Homo sapiens: one gene and its partners. The protein of the gene in region 4 interacts with the protein of the main gene of each other region in a biochemical or structural test. Each region holds a gene or a part of one and is shown on either strand. Other genes may lie near its edges.

Evidence for each region.
Region 1: the proteins of MYOZ1 (region 4) and TJP1 interact in a test that uses a peptide from one of them, tested with the Homo sapiens proteins (one large-scale study listed by IntAct).
Region 2: the proteins of MYOZ1 (region 4) and FRMPD2 interact in a test that uses a peptide from one of them, tested with the Homo sapiens proteins (one large-scale study listed by IntAct).
Region 3: the proteins of MYOZ1 (region 4) and LIMK2 interact in a test that uses a peptide from one of them, tested with the Homo sapiens proteins (one large-scale study listed by IntAct).

The regions. Positions count from the first base shown.
Region 1 is NC_000015.10:29,707,469-29,710,968, forward strand, and holds part of TJP1 (tight junction protein 1), read right to left. Parts: coding exon 3,363-3,500; intron 1,569-3,362; coding exon 1,091-1,568; intron 1-1,090. UniProt on the Homo sapiens protein: TJP1, TJP2, and TJP3 are closely related scaffolding proteins that link tight junction (TJ) transmembrane proteins such as claudins, junctional adhesion molecules, and occludin to the actin cytoskeleton.
Region 2 is NC_000010.11:48,268,197-48,271,696, forward strand, and holds part of FRMPD2 (FERM and PDZ domain-containing protein 2), read right to left. Parts: intron 1-3,500.
Region 3 is NC_000022.11:31,257,298-31,260,797, reverse strand, and holds part of LIMK2 (LIM domain kinase 2), read right to left. Parts: intron 2,508-3,500; coding exon 2,372-2,507; intron 1,678-2,371; coding exon 1,568-1,677; intron 910-1,567; coding exon 721-909; intron 1-720. UniProt on the Homo sapiens protein: Serine/threonine-protein kinase that plays an essential role in the regulation of actin filament dynamics. Acts downstream of several Rho family GTPase signal transduction pathways.
Region 4 is NC_000010.11:73,634,975-73,638,474, reverse strand, and holds part of MYOZ1 (myozenin-1), read left to right. Parts: intron 1-552; coding exon 553-731; intron 732-3,500. UniProt on the Homo sapiens protein: Myozenins may serve as intracellular binding proteins involved in linking Z-disk proteins such as alpha-actinin, gamma-filamin, TCAP/telethonin, LDB3/ZASP and localizing calcineurin signaling to the sarcomere.

The sequences.
Region 1 (3,500 bases), on a different chromosome or scaffold from region 4:
TGCAGAGCTAGGAAGGCAGTGACCGCCATAACCATCCTTTCTCTTGGAAAGCAGACTCAGGTGGCCATCCTGACCTTTGGTTCTCCCTGCCTGCAAGTGCTTCTGCTTTATGGTGGCGTGAAAATGGAACTGGCTGTAGGAGGCTGAGATGAGCTTTTATGTATGGCCAGAATCCATCTGGTCAATCGCCGTGGAATGAAAGACAGGAAAGAGGAGCTGCAGGGAGGCTCCAGGTGGGCTCACTTTGTCTCATTTGCTCAGCCATCTCACTAACTGCTGCTCTTTAAACAGTCAGAGGTTATTCTATTTTTCTTCTTAGCATCATTGTGGAACAAATAATGAATGAGGAACATAGATACTTAATGTTTTTAGATGTCCTCCACATGCACCTTACCAGTAGGTCAGGAGGTTACAAAAGGTCATGGCTGGTTAAGAGTATGGGCTCCTGGCTGGGTGCAGTGGCTCACGCCTGTAATCCTAACACTTTGGGAGGTGGAGGCGGATGGATCACTTGAGATCAGAAGTTCAAAACCAGTCTGGCCAACATGGTGAAAACCTCTACTAAAAATACAAAAAATTTAGCCAGGCGTGGTGGCACACACCTGTAGTCCCAGCTACTTAGGAGGCTGAGGCAGGAGAATTGCCTGAACCCAGGGGGTGGAGGTTGCAGTGAACCAAGATCGCACCACTGCACTCCAGCCTGGGCGACAGAGGGAGACTCTTGTCTCAAAAAAAAAAAAAAAAAAAAGCATGGGCTCAGAGGTCGGATGACCAGCAGCTAAATTGAGGCTCACCTCACTCTAGCTGTGACCCTGGGCAAACTGCTTACTGTCACTCAACCTCAGTTCTTAGTAAAACAGGGATGATGACAATACCTACCAACCATACACGACTGTTAGCTTTATTATTTTACCAACATCTTGTACCTCCTGGAGGACCTTCTATGTAACAGCATTCATTGCAACAACACTCTTCAGTTTAAAGGTTGAGTTAAAAAGATCACTTTAAAGTCCCAAGTCAAATAAACTACAACAAACTCACATGAGAAAAATCACAGGGCCAATGCTTTGAGCAAAGGCATAAGTCTTACCTCACAGGAATAGCTTTAGGCACTGTGCTGATATTATTTATTTGATATTTAGGCTTCTCTGCATGGATAGAGAAAGTTTCAACTCCACTGTCAAACTCAGGAGGCTGTGCCAAACTGTGCGATTTCACAAGAGTTTTTGGAGAAGTGGGAGTTTTTGAAGACAAGTCAGGTTTATGTGCAGTTTCACTTGGCAGAAGATTGTGATTGAATTTAGGACTTTCAAACTTGCGTTCAAATGGTCGGGCAGAACTTGTATATGGTTTTGGTGTGAATCGATTGTATGCTGGAGTGACTGTTTTCTGAGTCTGTTCAGTTCCATTAACTGGGGCTTTATCTGGAAAACTTTTCTGGGGATAGAAAGCTGCCTGAGCAGTATCTTCTCGGTTTGGTGGTCTGAAAGTTGCTGGCTTATTCTGAGATGGAGGTGGGTCTGGTTTGGACACTAAGGAATTCTGAAAATCCAATGACACTGAATTACCTGAAAAACAAACGTAAGCATTTAAATAACTTTCTGAAAAAAGTTATAATAGCCCTGTCCCAGCTTAACTTGTCCTGGTGCTGGAGTCGAGGCCCAAATGTGGGTCGCACAGCCAGAGCCTGACTCTTGAGCCCTGGAGGCTAGGTGTGATGCTGAGGGATGAGGGCAGCATGGACAGGTGGTGCCATGAATATATATACCCTGCTGCCCTGGAGTCAGGGTCCAGCTGCTAAGATTCCTGGCCTCCAAAGATTGGCACTAGTCTTTGTGAAAACTAGAATGCCCAATAATCATATAATAAGGATACTCACTATTAATTAGAAAAATGTAAAACAAAACCAACAAAAAGCATTAAATACTATTTCACACCCACTAGAATGGAAAAACCGAAAAGTCTGATGATGCCAAACATTGGTTAAAAAGTGGAACCACAGGATTTTTTATGCACTGCCAGCCACAGTGTAACACAGTACCAACTGAACTCTGTGAAATAATTAAGGACACTACAAGACAGGAGAATTATTAATCCAAATACCTCATGAATATAGTAATATAATTTTCCACAGTACGAGAAGAAAAATCATATGGTCATCTTAATACATGCAGGAAAAACATCTGACTGCTTTCAGCAAACTCTGAATATAGGGAATGTCTTAAACATGATAAAGGACATCTACGAAAATCCTAGAGCTAACATTCTAAAGGATAAAACATGAGGTCCTTCCTCCTTAAAATCAGGAACTAGCAAAAGAGGTCCAATTTCACCACTTACATTTCAGAGTTTATTGGAGGTCCTGGCCAGTGCAATCAGCAAGAAAAGAAAGAAGGCTAGGTGCGGTGGCTCATGCCTGTAATCCCAGCACTCTTGAGAGGCCGAGGTGGGCGGATCACCTGAGGTCAGGAGTTCGTGACCAGCCTGGCTAACATGATGAAACCCTGTCTCTACAAAAAATACAAAAATTAGCCGGGCGTGGTGGTGTGCGCCTATAGTCCCAGCTACTCAGGAGGCTGAGGCAGGAGAATCACCTGAACCCGAGAGGCAGAGGTTGCAGTGAGCTGAGACTGCGCCACTGCACTGTAGCCTGGGCGAGAGCAAGGCTTCGTCTCAAAAAGAGGAAAAAAAAAAAGAGAAAAGGCATAAGGACTGGAAAGTAAGAATTAAAACTGTCTTTATCTGTAAACATGGGCATGTGTGAAAAAAAATCTTAATAAAAGATAGCCTCAATCCAGAACTATAACACATCTGCTTGAAGACTCACAAGCCCAAGGAGGTGCCTCCTAAGGGAATAATAAGAGAAGTCTGTGCTAGGAAAATGCCTGTCCACAGCAGAAGAGATAACCACTTTGTGTTATATGCTGAGGGTAAAATGTTACAAAGCTCTTAAGATGAATAATCTGGAGCTATATGTGATCTACCTGGTATGTAAATGCAAAAGTCAAGGTGTATGGGATACATTTTATATGAAACATTATGGCTTTTCTATTTGGGTGTGTGAGATAAAACATAGTAGGTTTTACAAACCATCTTTACATATACTGGCAAACACTACTTCCAGAAGATTTAGAGACTAGCATAAAATAGATTAAAATCTGTTTAGCTAAAAGGCTTGTCCAAAATAATGGTCTTGTAAAAACAGGAGACATACTTTTAACAAAATTCTTAGTTTTTACTGTTCCCAGCCCAAAGGTTTCAAGCATGTATTTTTTAATGTAAAAACCATTTTGCCTAGAAACCACCAGAATTTTACTTCATAAGCATTACTGTGTTAAAATGTCTACTTCCGAACTTCCTACCTTCACCATGTGCTCCCTTAGAATGTATGTGGAGAGACGCGCTGGTGACAGGCTGAGATGGCTGGGCATACTGCGAGGGCAATGGAGGAGGAGGGGGAGTGGCCTGGATGGGTTCATAGCGTTTCTCGCCAAATGATC
Region 2 (3,500 bases), about 25 Mb from region 4:
TATATGACAGGAAAAAAAAATAAAGTGACAATACCAAATGCTTATGAGGATACAGAGAAACTGGATCTCTTCTAAGTTGATGGTGGGAATGTAAGTGGTACAGCCACTTCAGAAAAGAGTTTGTCAGTTTCTTTTTAAAAAAGAGAAAAACTAAACATACTCTTACTATACAACTGAGCAATTGTGCTTCTGTGCACTTATCCCAGAGGAAAAAAAATGAATATCCACACACAAAGCTGCATGTGAACGTGTGTGTTTTATTTGTAATAGCAGCTTTATTTGTGATAGCCAAAAACTGTTAAGTCAAAATGTCTTTCATTTGGTGAATGGTTAAACAAATTGTGGTATATTCATACCATGGAATACTACTCAGCAATAAAGAGCAAACTATTGATACGTGCAACAGCTTGATTAGATCTCAAGGGCATTAGGCTGAATGAGAAAAACCAGTCTCAAAAGGTCACAGCTTGTGAGACTGATCTCAGAGATAGTAGAAGCAGGGTGGTAGGGAGTAGAATGGGAGCTGGGGGAGATCTTTGTGGCGATAGAATAGTTTTGTATCTTGATTGTGGTAGTGGTTACATAAATCTACACAAGTATTACAATGGCATAGTACTTTACACACATATTGTACCAATGTCAAATGTCTGGGTTTGCCATTGTGCTGTAGTTAGGTAAGATATAATCACTGGGGGACACTGGAGGAAGAGTATAGGGACTTCTCTGTGCTCTTTGCAACTTCTTTGCAACTTTTTATCTGACCATATATGAAAATTAAATGTAAACAAAAATATGCAACAGATTAGGAGAAAATATATATAATGGCAAAAGGGTTACTATTTACTCATCAATTAGAAAAAAACAACTCTTTAATTTAAAAGTTAAGAAATAAACAGGTGAAAAAATACAACTACTCAATAAATATTTGAAAAGATTTGCTGTGTTTCTAGTAAATCAGGGAAAACAAAACAGCAATGAGAATTTATCAAGAGGGTCAAAAATTTAAATATTTGATGTTAGCAAGGTGGGGGCTGCAGACCAGGCCCTCTCATAACACCCATTAACATGGGAATTAAATTGGTATAGATTTTTCAGAGCCATCTATCAAAATTGAGAACATGTATTTGCCAAGTCCCAGCAATGCCAATTCTCTGCCTCCTAGGGAACATTTCTAAGCATATAGGAAATAGGATGCACAGAGGCGTGTTGCATGTGGATGTTGCTGGTGGGGCAGGTGGTACCTAGTACAAGGGTGGCCAGCGTCACTGAAATGCAGCCTTCAGAGGGATGCAGAAGCTGAACAGGCCTGAGAGTTCCCCCTTCACGGAGAGCATAGCCTTCTCTCCTCCTGCAGTGATGATTGAGGGATAAACCTCTGGCTGATGGGACTCAGGCAGGGCCAGGCCGTCCGTGGGTTCCCAGCCTAATGCAGGTTGAGAAGTGGCTTGCCCTGTCACAAACCCCACTGGGTGAATGCTTTGTTTAAAAATTTTCCTCTAGAAGTGAAGCAGCTTCATTCAGTCAAATTAATCCATCCAGAGCAGACCATTAAAAATACTGGTTAGTGAAGAGGGGGTCCTTAACTCACACTTGACAGACCCAGGAGACCTGCTGTAGCACAGATGGGAAATGGGAGACAGCCAAGGTGTGAGGGTGAAGGCTTGTCCAGAATCCCACTCCGAGTGGTTTCAGGGAGAGGACTCTGGTCTCAAGCTCTTCTCCTGGGCTTTATTTACCACATACCCCTCCTCAGGCCCTGAGTCAGGAAGTTGCTTCCCACAGTGATATCTACAAAGAGCTATACAGCCAGCTGGGATAAGGGATGAAGGTCAAACCGAAAGTGACTATTTCTGTGCAAAGAATCAGAGAGAAAAATCTTATGGGCCCAACAGCAGTAGGTAATTGAGAAAGTGAGACTAAGAAAAGTCATAAAAGAAACGGTGATTCCTTATTAAACAATATGGAAAAACTGTCCACTCCTGCCTATAATCCAAGGAGCTGCTAGTGGACGTGGTCTCGAGGCCCATTTTCATCCCTCAAGTGGGCTTCGATGATGAGCGCTCAGTGCCCATGAGGTGGCAATGACACTGTTCCTCTCAGAGACCTTACTTATGTGTGGCCAATTTGCGACAGCTGATTTGTAAAGCAGTTTGGCAATCTGTATCAAAAGCCAAGGGATGTCCATTCCTGCCATCAGGGTCTTCCTCTTCTGGGAATTGATGCCAAGAACATAATTGACAAAGATGTATATTCAAAGATATTTGCCATGGTATTATTTGTAACAATGAATAAAGGCAATGCCAAATGTCAGTGGTCTTTGGGTTTCTCTCTGCCCTGGCTCCCTCTTCAAATCACTCTACATGCTCCAAAGTTACCAACCATCAGTCCATCCCCTCCACAGCCATGTCTTAAGCTCAGACCCGTTTCTTGAGCTCCTGCTTGGTGATCCCAGGATGTCCTTTAGACAACCCCCTTAGATGTAGAGAGCTGAATTCACCTTCCCCCCACCTCCTCCTCTTTCAACCTCTCTTATTTGAATACAGCAAATGGCATTCCCACCACCTAACCCCTCAAGCCAAACATTCAGACGACATTTTTGTCTCCTTCCCATCCCTCAACTTCCCAGCCCGTTAATCACCATCTCCAAAATCTCTCTAAAATCCGCCTGTTTCTCTCCAACCCCACCACCACTGACCTGGTCTAAGCCACCAGCACCCTCCCCTGAATGACCACTGAAATGTAAATTCTACAAAATGGTTTCCTACAACCATACCTTGCCCCTGCCCTGATCCATTCTCTGTCTTGCAGAGTCCTCTTCCTAAAACACAAATCTGACCATGTCACACCTCGTGAAAACTTTCAGCCACTTTCTATTCTCCAAAGGATCAGCTCAGATCCTGAGCAAGATTTGCAGGACCTCAGGCCCACCGCTTTGGACTGATCTCTAGCAGCTTCCTCTTTCCCCCATGGCCTTTTTCCAGCCTTAGACGCACCACAACCCCCTTGCCTCCTGTCCTTCTGCAGGCTCTGTGGGGACACTCGCATCTGGAGCTCCTTCTTCCCCCACTGGCTGAATGACTCAGTAAATTAACAAGTGAATACTTCAGATGCTGCCTGCACTCTGGACTGGCATCATACAAAAATGATACTGATAGAAGAAACAAAAGAAATTCCTAGATGGCACTTTTTTAAAATGTCTAATACATTTACTCTCCAGCCAGACACTGTTTAACCCATCTTGAATCTATTGAAGAGTGAGTTCTGACAGCTCAGCCTTGATCTGCCTCCTGCCTGGCACCAGCCCTCCTGGAACTGGTTCCTGTGCACCATCCTACACATCTCCTTCCTGCCTCCCTTCACTACCTACTCTATTTCCAACAATGTTGGGCTATGATAGCTCAAGCAAATACAGGAATAAGGAGGCTTACAGCCAAGGCAAGAAAAAAAAAGGGAGGGCAGTTAACAGTAGAGCTGCCAGCGACCAGTAAAAGGAAGCCTGA
Region 3 (3,500 bases), on a different chromosome or scaffold from region 4:
CCCTCTGCCCTGAACACAATTCCCTCTCCTCTTCATCTAATAAGGTTGTAGAACAGACCTTAGCTCCTCCTGACTTCCCAAACTCTAGTATCTTTCACCTGCTGTGCAAGCACTAGCCTAGTGTCCAACACATGGTAGATACACAATCAATATTTACATGGTAAGCGGCCAGAGGTACGACATTACTGGTATTAGATAGACACAGACTCTTTCTCCATCTGGTCTCTGGCCTGAATCTAGGATAGGGTCTTAACTTCTTTTGGGCCATGGACCACATTTTCTCCATTCATTCTCTCGACTGACAAAATAATAATCAATCAACTCCTACTATATGCCAGGTACTCTTCCAAGCCCTGGGCATGCAGCACTGAATAAGACAGCAAGTTTCTTCTGGAATTTACATTCTAGTGGAGGGGATAGAAGATAAACAACTAATACACATAATCAAGCCAGATGATTTCAAAGAGCAAACATGACCTGAAACCTGACACCTGAAAGGTGAGTGATTCTTGCCTTAAGTATCGGGTAGGAAGTAGCCTGGGCAGAGAGAACAGTAAGTGCCAAGGCCCAGGTACGGTTACAGCATAGTGGGGTCCAGGAGAAAGATATGAGATGAGAATAAAGGGAGTTCTGCATGAGACTTTGGAGGTCTAAGCCCTCTGAGGCCCATTTACAGACTCTGCTCAAGAACCCCTGCTGAAGGGTTCTCAAAATACTTACTCTTTCACTTGCACAGTGGTGGCGTAGTTGGAGCAGGCACTCTCCACGGACACGGAGAAGCCCCGCCTGCCTTCAGTGGTGGCCGGCATGGAGATGAGCGTGACAGAGTAGGGCAGCTGCTCCTGAACAGACTCTGTGGAGAGTCTCTCAAACATGGGTGCCAGCACCACCTCATTGTGGCACTTCCCACTGGGGAGAGGGCACAGGGGGGAATAAGATGCTAGAGTCCCACACAGAAGCCCCCCAGCAACCACTGCACCATGTGGCTTTAAGCAACAGTACCCATAGTCTCACTACCACCCTCTTTGTCATGATTCTAGCTGGCTGCTCAGAATGAGGAGCCTGGGTTCTCAGGGTGGGCTGGGACTGGGGGTGCTGAGCTAGATCTGCAGCAAGTGGTATATTTGGAAAAACACTGGCCTGGGTTGGGGTGAGATGGTCTGGGTTCTCTTCACTCTACCTTTGACTCACAATGAGAACCTTGCCCTTGTACTATTCTATTCCATGGGCCCCAGGCTGACTTCTTTTATCAACCAAGGTGGTTGGACAGGGTGAGCTCTAAGGGGTCTTTGACTTTAATGTTCTGGGATCGTCCTTGAAGAGTGCCTCCCACTGGGAGGATTGCAGGGCAGAGTGAAGACATTTTCAAGGTTGGTAAGGAAAAAGGGTAGAGACATGTGTAAATCATTCTGCTTACAAGTTAAAGAGCTGGTTAAGAGCACTGCTGTGGTAAGAATCCAATGCTCTGACTACCCTAACACTCCTTCTGCCCAACTCACCCTGCCACTGTCCCTCCCCGCCAGCCACTCTTATATGGGAGAGGATAGACAAAGGACCACTATCTTACCAGTAGAGGGTGGCATGCTGCACCAGTGCATATGCATCCCCATCCTCAATGATCACCTTGCAGCTCATACAGGCAAAGCACTCTGGGTGGTACTTGAACTCCCCAGCCACCTGTGAGCAGGTGGGGAGAAGGGTGTACAAAGGGAGGAAGGAAGTGAGTTATCACTGTTGCTGGAGTGAGGACAGGGGTGGGTGAATGACCTCCAAGCAAGGCCCCCGTCAAAATCCACTCTTTCACTCTCTGCCCTAGAGCTTCCAAAGGAAGTGTCAGATTGGTACCTCCTGTCATTTCTGAGACTGCACAAAACTGTTTTGGTCTCAGTTATGAGAAGAAATCCCCAGAAGTAATCATCCCCACTAAAAAAGATCAGTTCTTCCAATACAGGGTTGGCAAGTCTGTCACTATGCTTAAAGTCGTTTGTCCAGAGCAGGTATAGGAGGTAGCCCCTCTCTCTGCCAGCCTATTCCAGAGTCTCCTTTTCTGATTCCCTAAAGACAACCTAAGTATATCCTCCTCTCAGCCTGTAACACTCTCCTTGGAGGTCCTTATCCAACTATATTGTGTCTCCTCTCTGCCTGCCTCTCCTCCCACTCCCAACGTTCAACTATTAAGTCTTTGAGGGAAGGATCTTACCTTTCACTTAGTAGGTGCTCAATTGATACCTGCTAGTTGAATGAATGAATAAATAAAGGGAGATGCCCTGGCTGATGGAAAGACTAAAAGATTAACAGGCCACAGGGAACTGGAAGCACTGTCAATGGACTCTGAAGACCAAGAGGGGCAGATATGAAGGGATTCACTCACCATAAAAGGCCCTGTCATCAGCAGGGAGCACCCATGACAGAACTCCCCAAACTTCCCCCAGTAGTCCTTGGGGCAGTAGAGCTTCCCATCCTTCTCATAGTACCAGTTGGTGAGGGAATCCTGGCATTCTGAACACCTGAAAGGCAAGACAAGAACTGAAATTCTCCTGGATCCCTGGAACCAGGCCACATAAGCTGTCCCTGGTTCCTAGGTATGACAACAAAATGGACAGTCCTCTTTGATCCAAAGCCAAGATGGGGCAAAGTTACAGCCTTGTGCTATCTCCCCAAGGGAAGCTGGTTCAGACTGAACAAGGCCCCAGAAACCAGCTCTGTGTTGCCTGCCTCAGTGGACAGACTAGTGTTTCATAACCTCTTTGGGTCTTGGGGCCCTCTGAGAATTTGATAAAAGCCAAGAAGCCTCCCCTAGAAAAATGAATATATAAAGAAGATGTGTATATAATTTAGGTGGGGGACAGGGTGTATATATAAAGGATTCTCTGAAACCTATTTATGGCACCAGTTAAGGATCTCTGGTCTTGACAGATACTTCAATGAACAAAAGCAGTTTAATCATCTCCACTCTTCAAAACTGACCCATCACCAACAGCGTTACCAATGTAATGTTCTTGCCAAAAATACGTTAAGTATAAAAAAACTAATCAGGCAAATCTAGAATGTGGGTTATTCTATAAGAATAACCGGTCTTGACTCTTCTAAAAAGTCATGGGGAGAAGAAAAGGCACAGATTTTAAAAACCCTAGAGACACAGCAACCAAATACAATGCCTCAAACTTGGATTCAAATTTAGATTAAAAAAGGAAACAGCCATGAACATTTTTTGGAACAACTGAGGAAATATGGATTTGGACTATAATATTATATTGTAAAATTGCCGTGAATTTTCTTAGATGTAATGATATCTGACTTATATAGGAGAATTCTTAGCAGAAACATATTGAACTGTTCAAGGGTAAAATCAAGATGCCTTTAAGTTACTCTGAAATAGTTCAGCAAAAATAAATAAATAAAAGTATACAGATAGAGGGAGAGAGATATATACAAAGTGGCATAACATTAACAAATCATGAATCTATGTGAAAGGTATGTAGGTGTTCTTTGAACTACAT
Region 4 (3,500 bases):
TGCAATCCCAGCGACCTGGGAGGCTGAGGCAGGAGAATTGCTTGAACCTGGGAGGCGGAGGCTGCAGTGAGCTGAGATCGCGCCATTCCACTCCAGCCTGGATGATAGAGCAGGACTCTGTCTCAAAAAAATGAAAAAAAAGAATAAAAAATAAAAACAAATATATATATATATATATATATGGCATCTGTATTTGGACTCCACACAAGATTGGCCTCTGGGTTTTTCCTGATGCCATGGTTTCTCCAATGGCCTCCATCTATGATGTTCCTTTACTCCTTTTGCTCTGTACCCCATGCCCGTACCTCTTTTACCCCATTGGCCTCTCCACTCTAGTATTCCCATTATCTCCACAGTGCACCCCAGTTCCCATGCATTCTCTCCAAGTCCCAGGAAATCAAAATCCCTCACAAACTAGACAGCATTTGTTCCCCTAAATGACCTCTGCCAGGACACACATACACACTTAGTTGTGGATGAGGTCTGCATTCTGAGCCCAGAAAACCCTACTTTCCTCTTTCCCTTGATTCTTCTTCTTTGCCTCCCTGAAAGGTGGACAGGAGAGCTCAGGCTTGAACCTGGGCAAAAAGATCAGTGTCCCAAGGGATGTGATGTTGGAGGAACTGTCGCTGCTTACCAACCGGGGCTCCAAGATGTTCAAACTGCGGCAGATGAGGGTGGAGAAGTTTATTTATGAGAACCACCCTGATGTTTTCTCTGACAGCTCAATGGTGAGTCTGGAACTTTATCACTATCTCAAAGCCTGGTGCCTGTTCTGACAGCTTGTTAGTAGGCCCTGAACCTCCAAAATGCAGTCAACATCCCCTCCCTGAAAATTTATAAATTTGTTAAACCCCCAGATATATTGAGCCCGCAACAGCTCCAGGGTGAGTTACAGCCCACCTCTGAAACCCAGTTTTCATCATAGAGCCACTGAAGGGTTGGAGAATACCACACCCTTAGGGAGAAAATTCCTTCCCAGTAAAGGTAAGTGTTAAAGATAGATTGCCAGATAAAACACAGGATGCCCAGTGGGGCAGTCCAGTCTTGTATTTTGAAGTTGAGATACACAATGAATAATTTTTTAGTGAAGTATGCTCCATGCAATATTTGGGACATAAAGATAAAAATTTAAAAAAATTTTAGAAAGAAGATAAGGCAGCCAGGCATGGTGGCTCACACCTGTAATCCCAGCACTTTGGGAGGCCGAGGCAGGTGGGTCACCTGAGGTCAGGAGTTTGAGACCAGCCTGGCCAACATGGTGAAACCCCCATCTCTACTAAAAATACAAAAAATTAGCTGGGCGTGGTCGTGGGTTCCTGTGATCCCAGGTACTCAGGAGGCTGAGGCAGGAGAATCACTTGAACCCAGGAGGTGGAGTTGCAGTGAGCCCAGATTGTGCCACTGCACTCCAGCCTGGGCAACAAGAGTGAAACTCTGTCTCAAAAAAAAAAAAAAAAGAAAGAAAAAAGAAAAAAGGAAGAAGATAAGGCAAAGAATAAAATTGAAATTTTAAAATACAGAATATACAATTAAATTTGAGTTTCAGATGCACAATGAATTCTTTTTTAAATATGTCCCATGCAATATTTGGGACATTAAAATAAAAATACAGGATGTCCACTTAAATTTGAATTTCAGATGCAAATGAATAATTTTTTTAGTATAAGTAAGTCCCAAGCAATATTTGGAGGCATATCTATACTAAAAAAGTATTTGGGTCAAGTGTGGTAGCTCACACCTGTAATCCCAGCACTTTGGGATGCCAAGGCAAGAGGACTGCTTGAGTCCAGGAGTTGGAGACCAGCCTGGGCAACATGGCAAGACTCTGTTTCTACAAAAAATTAAAAAGTTAGCTGGGTCTGGTGGCGCACACCTGTAATCCCAGCTACTCTGGAGGGTGAGGTGGGAGGATGGCTTGAGCCTGGAAGGTAGAGGATGCATGAACATGAGCCATGTTCACACCACTGCACTCCAGCCTGGGTGACAGAGAACCCATCTAAAAAAAAAAAATAAAAATTTGTTGTGCATCTGAAATTCAAATTTAAGTGGTATCCTATATTTGATTTGCTAAATCTGGCAACCCTAGAAAGAGTTAATTGAGTTTTTACAGCCACCTCCCATTTGAGCCATTCTTCCATTTAAAGGGTCAGTCTATTCCCTAAGAAGCCCCAGGTGTGGAGACTGAAACGGTCCTTCAAGATATATTCTAGTCAGGCTCCTTCTCCAAAGAAAGAGGAGACTGGAGAGGGGCCAGGCACAGGATGGTATAGCTGAGGAAGAAGGGCCTTCTCCATTTCCTTTCTTCCTCCTCCACCCTCTCTGAGTGGCTGGGGGAGAGTGGAAATAGATGCCTGCATGGGGCCGGGGGCAGAAGTGTCTGTCATTGGTCCTCATATAGGAGCAGAGTAAAAGTGCTGAGCTGCTCATATCTAACTTTAGGAGGCCAAAAGCACTCTTCTCTGCCTGGGTCTGGTTACACTGGGTGGAGCATTGGGGTGTACATGGTGGGATGGCCAGGAGAGCCTCCTGAAGAAGTTGGTGGGGTTATTTTTAGGCTTTGGGTTTGCATCTAATGTTGCCCTTTTGGCCACACTTCCCCCCACCTGCTACAGTGTCACTGTCACCAGTGAGGTCCAACAGGCACCAAGAGGAGAGAGGAAGAGAAAGAAGGAGAGAGAAGAGAGTTCTGACTGTTGGACAAGCTGAGGAAGGGAGGGGGCAGAATTTCTCTAGTCCTTGTAATTAAGACTGGGTGCTCCATGGCAACCCCATCCTCCCAAATTTTAGTTGGGGCTGGACACAGCTCATGCCTGTTATCTCAGCACTTTGGGAGGCTGAGGCAGATGGATCACTTGAGCCCAGGAGTTTGAGACCAGCCTGGGCACATGGCAAACCCTGTCTCTAGGAAAAAAAAAAATACAAAATTTAGCTGGGTGTGGTAGCATGCCAGTAGTCCCAGCTACTTGAGAGGCTGAGGTGGGAGGATTGCCTGAGCCAGGGAGGTGGAGGTTGCAGTGAGCCGAGATTGTGTCACTGCACTCCAACCTGGGTGACAGAGCCAGATTCTGTCTCAAAAAGCAAAAGAATTTTTTTTCATTTTTTTTTTTTAAAGCTGGGCAGGCGTGTTGGTCTTTTTTGACTTGTTAAGGATGAGAAAGGGGAGTGTGGAGAACACGCTGCCCTTACCCTAGGTATAACTGGAGGAAACGAGCCAAGGGAGTCCTACCTCTTAAGAAGAGTTTAATTCGGGCTGGGTGCGGTGGCTAACGCCTGTAATCCCGGCACTTTGGGAGGCCGAGGTGGGTGGATCATCTGAGGTCGGAGTTTGAGACCAGCCGGACCAACGTGCAGAAACCCCACCTCTACTAAAAATATATCAAATTAGCCGGGTGTGATGGTGCATGCCTGTAATCCCAGCTACTCGGGAGGCTGAGGCTGGGAATTGCTTGAACCTGGAAGGCTGAGGTTGCGGTGAGCCGAGATCGTGCCATCACACT